Regions from separate parts of the Homo sapiens genome. Here region 2 is linked to region 1. Evidence: fine-mapped expression QTL. A gene starts in region 1. The other region holds a variant in brackets. All regions are shown on one strand. Distances are from middle to middle.

Region 1 (4,400 bases):
AAAACAGGATCTCAAAGAGATATTTGTACATCCATGTCCATAAGCAGCATTAGTCATGATACCCATAAGGTGGAAGCAACCCAAGTGTCCATCTACATATGAATGGATAAACAAAATGTGATACACGCATGCGCGCTCACACACACACACACACACACACACACACACACACATTATTCAGCCTTAAAAAGGAATGAAATTCTAGTATAAGCTACAACACAGATGAACCTTGAAGACATTATGCTAAGTGAATAAGTCAGTCACAAAAAAGACAAATACTATATGATTCCACAAATATGAAGTACCTAGAGGTGTCAAATTCCTAAAGACAAAGTAGAAGGATGGTTTCCAGTGGACAGTTTTTTCCACTGGCATAGTTTCAGTTTTGTAAGAGATTAAATGGGTATAGAGTTTCAGTTTTGTAAGATAAAAATAGTTTTGTAGGGTGGTTACACAATAATGTGAATGTACTTAACATTACTGTAAACTTAAAAACGGTGAAGATCGTAAATTTCATGTTATGTGTGTTTTAGCACAATTTTTTTAAAAAACAAAACCCCCGACCGGGCACCGTGGCTCACCCCTGTAATTCCAGCACTTTGGGAGGCTGAAGCAGGCAGATCATGAGGTCAGGAGTTGGAGACCAGCCTGGCCAACATGGCTAAACCCCGTCTCTACTACAAATACAGAAATTAGCTGGGCGTGGTGGCACGCACCTGTAATCCCAGCTACTCGGGAGGCTGAGGCAGGAGAATCGCTTGAACCTGGGAGGCAGAGATTGCAGTGAGCCGAAATCAGGCCACTGCACTCCAGCCTGGGCGACAGAGCAAGCCTCTGTCTCAGAAAAGAAAACAACAAAAAAACAAAAACCCATGTTAGAGTTAATGGTAAAATTGAATGGGAGGAGGTGTGAGGAAAAAAATATATTAATATGAAGAAAGTGGAGTCAGGTTACTTTGCACCTTGGAGCATGTTTTAACAGTGGTTGCATTAGTAGGGATCAGGAAGAGGTTTTGGGGCAGAAGATTAGTTCAATTTTTTTTTTTTTAAAGACGGGGTCTCACTGTTACCCAGGCTGGAGCGCAATGGTGTGATCTCAGCTCACTGCAACCTCCACCTCCCGGCCTCAACGATCTTCCCACCTCAGCCTCCCTTAGTTCAATTTTTGAAAAGTCAGTTTTGAAGTGACAATTTTATCATGCAGCAGATATACAGACCAATTAAATGTATTTAATTGGCCTGGCACAGTGACTCACGCCTCTAATCCCAGAGTTTTGGGAGACTGAGGCAGGAGGATCCCTTGAGGCCAGGAGTTCAAGACCACCTTGGGCAACATAGTGAGACCCTGTCTCTACAAAAAAAAATATACATATATATATATATAATATATTTAAAAACTTTAATTGTGAAAATATAATGAAATTAGTAAGTTATTTTCTAATTTACTAATTTCTGGTGGTCCTTGCTAAAGAGTGGCATATCAAGTTTATTTTATTGAACCTGTTTCAGATACTGCTGTTGGGGGTGAGCCTTTACCCACTGTTTGTTTTTGCTAGTTTTTGCTTTTGACTGCAGTCTTAGAAGGAAGCATATAGTAGGAATACAATTGATTTTATTATACATTAAAAAATTAAGTCCCAGAGTCCTATAATTGGGAATATCTTGAATAAAAACTTCATTAGAACAAGGTAAAAATATTGCTGGCCTTGGAATACAATCTAACACACTAGAGAGAGGTTTCTTCTCCAAGCGAGTATTAAAAGATATAATGCAGGTAAATTAGTAATAGCACGACAAATATTAGCTGCTATTATCATCATCAAGTTAAACACAAATGTATCACAAATACACGTACGTAATTCTCCGCAAATGTATATACTAGTCGTCGATACTGGTTCATACAGGTATTTTCATTTTTTACTTAAAAGTATAGCGCTCCTGGGAAAATCACTGATTAGGTTCAGATTAATACATAAAGCAGTAAGAACTTAAAGATAATATAAAAAGAACTGCTTTTAAAGGTTATGTTCTATGTATTGCACTGGGACGTGGAATATAATCCTTTTTACAGGAAAACTGATGCGCCTAGGAACCATTCTCTCGTGCGACTTGGTCTCCAGCCGGATCTCAGTCAGTATAGAACTAGGTTACCGCACACGTTGGCGGGGGTGGGAGGGTGTGAGACTGGCCTCCACACCACGAAAGATCCATCCCGGAAGTGCTTACTGGTCGTCTCCATGCGCCGGTTCCTGGGCGTCTTAGAGCCAAGGCGCGAGGCTCGGAGTGAGAGGTAGAGCTGGAGGGGACCCTAAGCGCCCTCCGCCCGGGACGTGAGCCGCTGCGCCCACCGGGCTAGACCCGGCGCCATCATGCTGCTTCTGCCAAGCGCCGCGGACGGCCGGGGCACCGCCATCACCCACGCTCTGACCTCTGGTAAGTGCCCACCCAACCTCGGTTCCTTCTCACCTCAGCTGCCCCTGCCTCAGTCCTCCGCCTCGGCAACCCTGGGCTCTCTCTACCCTTGACCCTGGCGACTAGCCCCGGGGCCGTATGGGGCCGTGACGAGTGCCTTTTTGCTCCGTGTTTTAAAGTAATCCTACCCTAGATTAGAAGGAAGGAGGGTGAGGGGTGCCTTCCTTTTGCTCCTACCGTTGCTTCCTCCTCTCGCCGCTGCTGACTCATGGATTGGGCTGAGCATTTCGGGACGGAACCCCCCAGCACCCCAGAAAGGTTCTCATAAGCATCTCCTTGCCTACGGTGGAAAGACTACGCGCAGCGAGCACCCCACGTGCCTGGGGTCGTACAAAGCTTTGCTACTGGCGCTCTCTTAAACAACTTTCTCCCTCTCTACGTTTGCTCCGGCCTTGTTTTTTAAATGTCACAACTCAGACACCGCTCCTCATACTCGGTGTTCAAAGACTGTGCTGCTGAAAAGATCCGCGTAGACTTTGAAAGGCAGTTATTACAAGTGAAACTTGTCCTGCTGCTGTAGGTTTTAGTTTTATGGCCCAGGACAGTCATGAGTATTGTAAACTTAAGAGTCTTCAGGTCCAGTGATCTACAGTAATTCCCATAGCCAGTCACATAGGCGCTTGTTGAATGTGATTTTGAACATAACCCATGGCACGTGTTGCATTTATGTGTCTCCGTGTGCCTCTTACAACTAGAGCAAAAGGCTTAAAAGGCAGTGTTCTTAAAAGCCACACACCCATACTACACAGGTAGTACCTTTTTGACAGTGTTTTAATCCTCTCCTGTGTAAGGTGGAGGAAATCTTAAAATAAGTTGTTCAGGGATTTTCCTTTTTTGAATTGCTAGTATACACATGTACAGTGATTTACCCCCACTTCCCAGGAATAGATGATACCTTTACTACAAGTTTGTAATTTCAGAGAGTTTCTGTGGTCTCATTCAAGCTTCCTAGGAACTGAATGAGATAAATAGGTATTGTTCCCATTTTACAGGTGAAGACATCCTGATTCATTTCAGGTCACATAGCCACTGTCAGACCTAGTCTAAAACCCAGAGTGTCTGGTTTCAGATTGAGAGCTTGTTCCACTACAGCTTAGCTGCATTAGTAAATTCCCATTTGCTGCTTGGAAAATTGCTTTCAGGACAAATTCTTGTTAGTGAATTCTTAAAATTTTTAAGAGCTATATTCAAGATTTTAATAATTAAGACAGTTTGAGTTGTCTGGGTGCGGTGGCTCACGTCTATAATCCCAGCACTTTGGGAGGCCGAGGCAGGTGGATCACCTGAGGTCAGCAGTTCGAGACCAGCCTGGCTAACAGGGTGAAACCCTGTCTCTACTAAAAATACAAAAAAGTAGCTGGGCGTGGTGGCGGGCGCCTATAATCCCAGCAACTTGGGAGGCTGAGGCAGAAGAATCGTTTGAACCCGGGAGGCGGAGGTTGCAGTGAGCCGAGATTGCGCTATTGCACTACAGCCTGGACAACAAGAGCAAAACTCCGTCTCAAAAAATAAAAAGATAGTTTGAGTTGTTTTTAGATTTTTTATTTTTGGTGAGGCTAGCTCTTCGTGACAATTTATCACTATTTATTACTTTATTAAAATTATTTGTCTAGGCCGGGCGCGGTGGCTCACGCCTGTAATCCCAGCATTTTGGCAGGCCGAGGTGGGTGGATCACGAGGTCAGGAGATCAAGACCATCCTGGCTAATATGGTGAAACCCCGTCTTTACTAAAAATGCAAAAAATTAGCCGGGGGTGGTGGCGGGTGCCTGTAGTCCCAGCTACTCGGGAGGCTGAGGCAGGAGAATCGCTTGAACCCGGGAGGCGGAGCTTTCAGTGAGCCAAGATCGCGCCATTGCACTCCAGCCTGGGTGACAGAGCAAGACTCCGTCCCAAAAAAAAAAAAAAAATTGTCCAGGTGGGTGCAGT
Region 2 (4,400 bases), 130 kb before region 1:
ACATTACATAGAAAAGTATATGTAGATCTTGGGTATAGAAGAATAAGAAATAACTTCTTTAATTTTTATTTTCAAAAGAGATGAAAAATCCTATATTGCGTCTAAACCTGATCAGACTTTTATGACTAATCACAGTGCTGCATGCATTGAAAGGCATTTTTTAACTTGTGTTATATTTCATTATTTGCTGTCATTGGTTTTCCACTAGAGTAAGGTAAGTCCTCCTTACTAAATCTGGGGAACTGTTTACTAATAGTTTCATCAGTGACACCAAACTTAACTGAGAAGTTTTGTAAAGCACCTTTGCAACTAAAAAAAAAAAAAAATCTATGAAAACAGTAATAAATGATACTGGTATATAGTGGAACATTTGAAACTTATTTCCATGTAAATTCGGAGTCAGTCAAATTGAGATAAGTCCCTAATATATACAATATAGGGCACAACAGCATAGACCAGAGTGCTAGTCAGCATTTCATCATTGGGCAACAGATTTGACTTAGATTCTGCTCTGTGCTTGACACCGTATTGGGTGCCCTTGAAGTGCTCACAGTTGATAAATTTGTTATGAGGGACAAGGGAAAATAGAAATGTGTGCAAAAGATTTAGGGACTCTGATTAAATGGAATGTCTTTCAAAAGACCTACTATGCTGAAGATGCATGAGGGTCCCTTGACTTACCAATTCTCCTCTAAGTTAATAACTGAATTGGCAGACGGAGTAGATGTATTCATAATACTTAGGAGTTCTAGATCTTGTCCTTAGGTAAGATTGGCCACTTTTAATATATTCTTGTATTTGTCCTCTGAGATTCTTTAAAATTTAAGAAGGCAAAATGGTTATAATTTATTGAACATCTATATATAGTGCTAGTTTTCATTTAATCCTTACAGCTCCCTGAGGTGCACATTATTGGATATTATTCTCATCCCCATTTAGCAGAGAAGAGAAATATGAAATCTTCAGTATGTGTGAGATGTTTGTGTCTGCACTTATTTATGCATAGCCTTCCTGAAAATGCATGGCCTTTAAGTCAAATGTGTGGCATCCTCTATGCAGGGAAGTTTCAGTGATAGTTTGAATGGCAGCTTCCTGCCTTACACTCACCAATATTTCTAAGATATGTTGAACAGTCCACTGGATTCTTATGTCTGCATTCATATAAATCATTATTTGTTCTACCATATGTTTTGGTGATAAATTACTGACAAGTAGAAATGCCTATATTTCTATGAGCTCAAATTAGTATCAATTCTCTATCTCCTCCATTTCCTTTAGAATCCATTAAAAAATCAATTGAATTGTTTTCATCATAATAAATGAACTAAGATTGTGTCTCCTTTAAAGAGTAACAGTTCAAAAGAGCACAGAGTCACTAGTTATTCAAAGATCTTGCAATGGCCATATTTCCTATGCAGAAACAAGGAAACACGTTATAATTCTATATGCCATCTAAGTCCCTAAACTCCCTTGGCAATAATGGACATTTACATTATCATTTCCAAGAAGCCTTTGTTGTTCATTCTCCCTTCTTTCAATTACTTACTCATAATGGAAGAATTTAAAAATGGACCTAGTTCTATCCACAACCAAAGCAAATTGATATGTCAAGTGGCATAGCTGATGTGCCTTGGGATGAACATTACCTCCTTTTATTGAACTTAAAATAAAAATTACTTTCTCTGGTAATTGCAGTGAATAAATAAATCTTTAAAAGTTCATTGCACTTCTTATTTCAGTTATAAGGTTATCTATAGCTGTACATCAAAATGTATCAAAAACAAAAAATAGGCTCACAAATATATCACACCAAAAAATGAGTAAATATAAGATAAATGTTAAAAATTCCCCTAATTCCCAATGCTGTTAGACATTTTAGAAGGTACAATAACTGTTTAGTAACCATGTCAATTTATTAAGTGGTCTTAGAGGCAGACAGCATTTTAGTATAGCTTGCCATAATGGTTGATTTTCAAAGGCTCATAAACTGGAAATATCCACTTCATTAGATTTCAACCTAACTGACTCAAAAGATTTTTATATTTCACATACCAAATTACCACCTAGTTTCCACGATGCTTTGATAGTGTGGTTTTTTTGTTTGTTTGTTTGTTTGTTTTTTGAGACAGAGTCTCACCGTGTCGCCCCAGGCTGGAGTGCAGTGGCACAATCTCAGCTCACTGCAACCTCTGCCTCCCAGGTTCAAGCAATTCTCCTGCCTCAGCCTCCCAAGTAGCTGGGACTACAGGCGCGTACCACCATGCCTGG[C/T]GTGCCACAACACCCAGCTAATTTTTTGTATTTTTAGTAGAGATGGGGTTTCACTCTGTTAGCTGGATGGTCTTGATCTCCTGACCTCATGATCTGCCTTCCTCAGCCTCCCAAAGTGCTGGGATTACAGGTGTGAGTCACTGCACCCAGCTGCCATTTTTAATGTGACTATATAAACACTAGGCATCTATAGCAAGTCCATTACTATATGCATATCAACATTCTCAGGAATCCAAAGATATGATACTGATACATAAACTTTTTCAAAATTAAAGAGCACCCAGGCCAGGCACAGTGGCCATGCTTGTAATCCCAGAACTGTGGGAGTCCAAGGCAACAGGATCACTTGAGGCCAGGAGTTCGACACCAGCCTGGCCAACATAGCAAGACCCCGTCTCTACCAAAAAAATTAGAAATATATTTAAAATCTTTTAAGAAAAAAATGTTATTTAAAAAAAGAACATCCAGTGATTCAAAATGTCCCCTAAATTGGTTTTAAGCTTCTACCTTGGACTAGTTTTTAGGGCACTAAAGATCTGCAACCTGCTAGTATTTATTTTCTCACCTATAAAGATGGAGACTTTCAATCAGCTCCATAATAAGTAAATAATTATATGGAGACGTTGCTTTAAAGCTGTTAAGTAAGCACATCAAGTTTTGTTAAAACTGAATGTTCTTTTGTTCCCATATATTAAGGTAACTTTCATGTCAATCTAGGTTGCATTGAGATAACAAAATATCTTGAGTGTTCTAACTTCATCTTTTTTTATGTAAAATATTTTAACTATTTTAAATTCTCTTTGAGTACCTTATACCTTTAAACGTGTTTTAACAGAATAATTTTCATTGCTTTAACTTTGCAATTATTCCTTATAGTTATAGAGTAATGATTTACAGCAGGAATCCAATCAGTAAGTCACCATAAGTTCAACAAACATGCCTTGACCACCCATGCACGGGTCAGGCAGGAGGCTCAGTGCTATGGTGCGGGGGTGGGGGGAGTTGGGGGACTGGCCCCCATACCAACAAAAGTTTAGTTGTGGGGAGCCAAGATATGAACACAAACTCCTTCAAAGCAGGAAATGAGCACTATGAGAGTTCAAAGTAAAAAAAAAAAAGTTCACTTATAGAGGGAGTAAACAAAGAAAATGTAATACTTGAACACGTAGAATCTAGGAAGTGATGTTGACAGCTGGCCAATGAGGCGGGTAGAAAGGACTCAAGGCGTTTGAGTAGAGCAGTTTGTATAGGAATGTAGAAAAATAAAGGGCAGAATAAGATTAAGCATGAAGAGGACTTGAAACGTCTGTTTAAGTTGGCTTAGCTGTTGCTCCATAGATAAGAGGATTCTGCATGGTTTTGGGCAAAGTGAAGCCAGTGTTTGAGGAAAAGTTTACTGAATCTGGTGTGCAAAATCAACTGCATGTATGTGTAGGAAGGTATACATGCACATGTATACAATTATGCATTCAGTTATACTTTCTTAGTATTTCAGGGGTTTCCTTTCAGTGGAGTTTTTTTTTTTTTTCATAAAAGGAAAAAAGTTAAGGAGGCTAGTTCAGGGGGCCACTATAATAGCTCAGGGAAAGAACTATAAGGCGACTGAGGATGCTGGCAGTAACACAGCTAGTTCCAGTCCCAAGATTTTGTGAATAAAGGAGCAACAGGATAATTTTTCTTGACACTTGATTAGTTCAATACATTAATTCCTTGGGGGTTTTTTTGTAACTCAATTTTACATAGGCAGCAGTTAGTACTTATAGCAGCTAATAAATGGATAAATTTGGGTCATTCAACTGTGACACTGAAACTGATCAACTTAGTTGATACATGTAATATTGTCACATGGAGGGGATGGGAGGGGGAGGATAGTAAATCTGCCTAAAGACAAAACCTGATTTTTTTGAAATCTTTTTCTCTATAATGTCTTCAGGATATATTCTTTGTTTCCATTTTATTGTTTCTAGCATTTTGATATTATTGAAATCTAGCAGGGGATGTTATTAGTACCTTTTTTATTTTATAAAATATGTATCAATTTGATGTCTTTGTATCAATATTTTAGCACAGATGCTATTGCTTTTTGATTATACATATCTGATGAAATTCAATTTATGTCTTTTCCTTTGAGA

Direction of the effects. Alleles are on the strand shown, and positions count from the first base shown. SD is a standard deviation of normalised expression in the study named.
With allele C in place of T in region 2, the expression in prefrontal cortex of the gene that starts at base 2,225 in region 1 is lower (moderate effect, 0.43 SD a copy in ROSMAP).

The links. PIP is the estimated chance that this variant, and not a neighbour inherited with it, causes the effect. A credible set is the group of variants that fine-mapping cannot tell apart.
Region 2: its variant is the best candidate, but not a certain one, in a credible set for the expression of DNAJC2 in prefrontal cortex (ROSMAP, PIP 0.52).

The regions. Positions count from the first base shown.
Region 1 is chr7:103,342,592-103,346,991 of GRCh38, reverse strand. DNAJC2 (DnaJ heat shock protein family (Hsp40) member C2) reads left to right here and starts at 2,225. Exons shown (of 17, transcript NM_014377.3): 1 at 2,225-2,433. The coding sequence starts at 2,370. It also overlaps a transcript of PMPCB not described here. RefSeq lists an enhancer at 2,043-2,282.
Region 2 is chr7:103,474,203-103,478,602 of GRCh38, reverse strand. RELN (reelin) reads left to right here. Exons shown (of 65, transcript NM_005045.4): 64 at 209-214. The region is part of intron 2 of SLC26A5-AS1 (SLC26A5 antisense RNA 1); the gene reads right to left. Among named protein-coding and RNA genes, the nearest start is that of SLC26A5, 30 kb to the right of the region's middle. The variant C/T (reference allele first, on the strand shown) is at 2,269.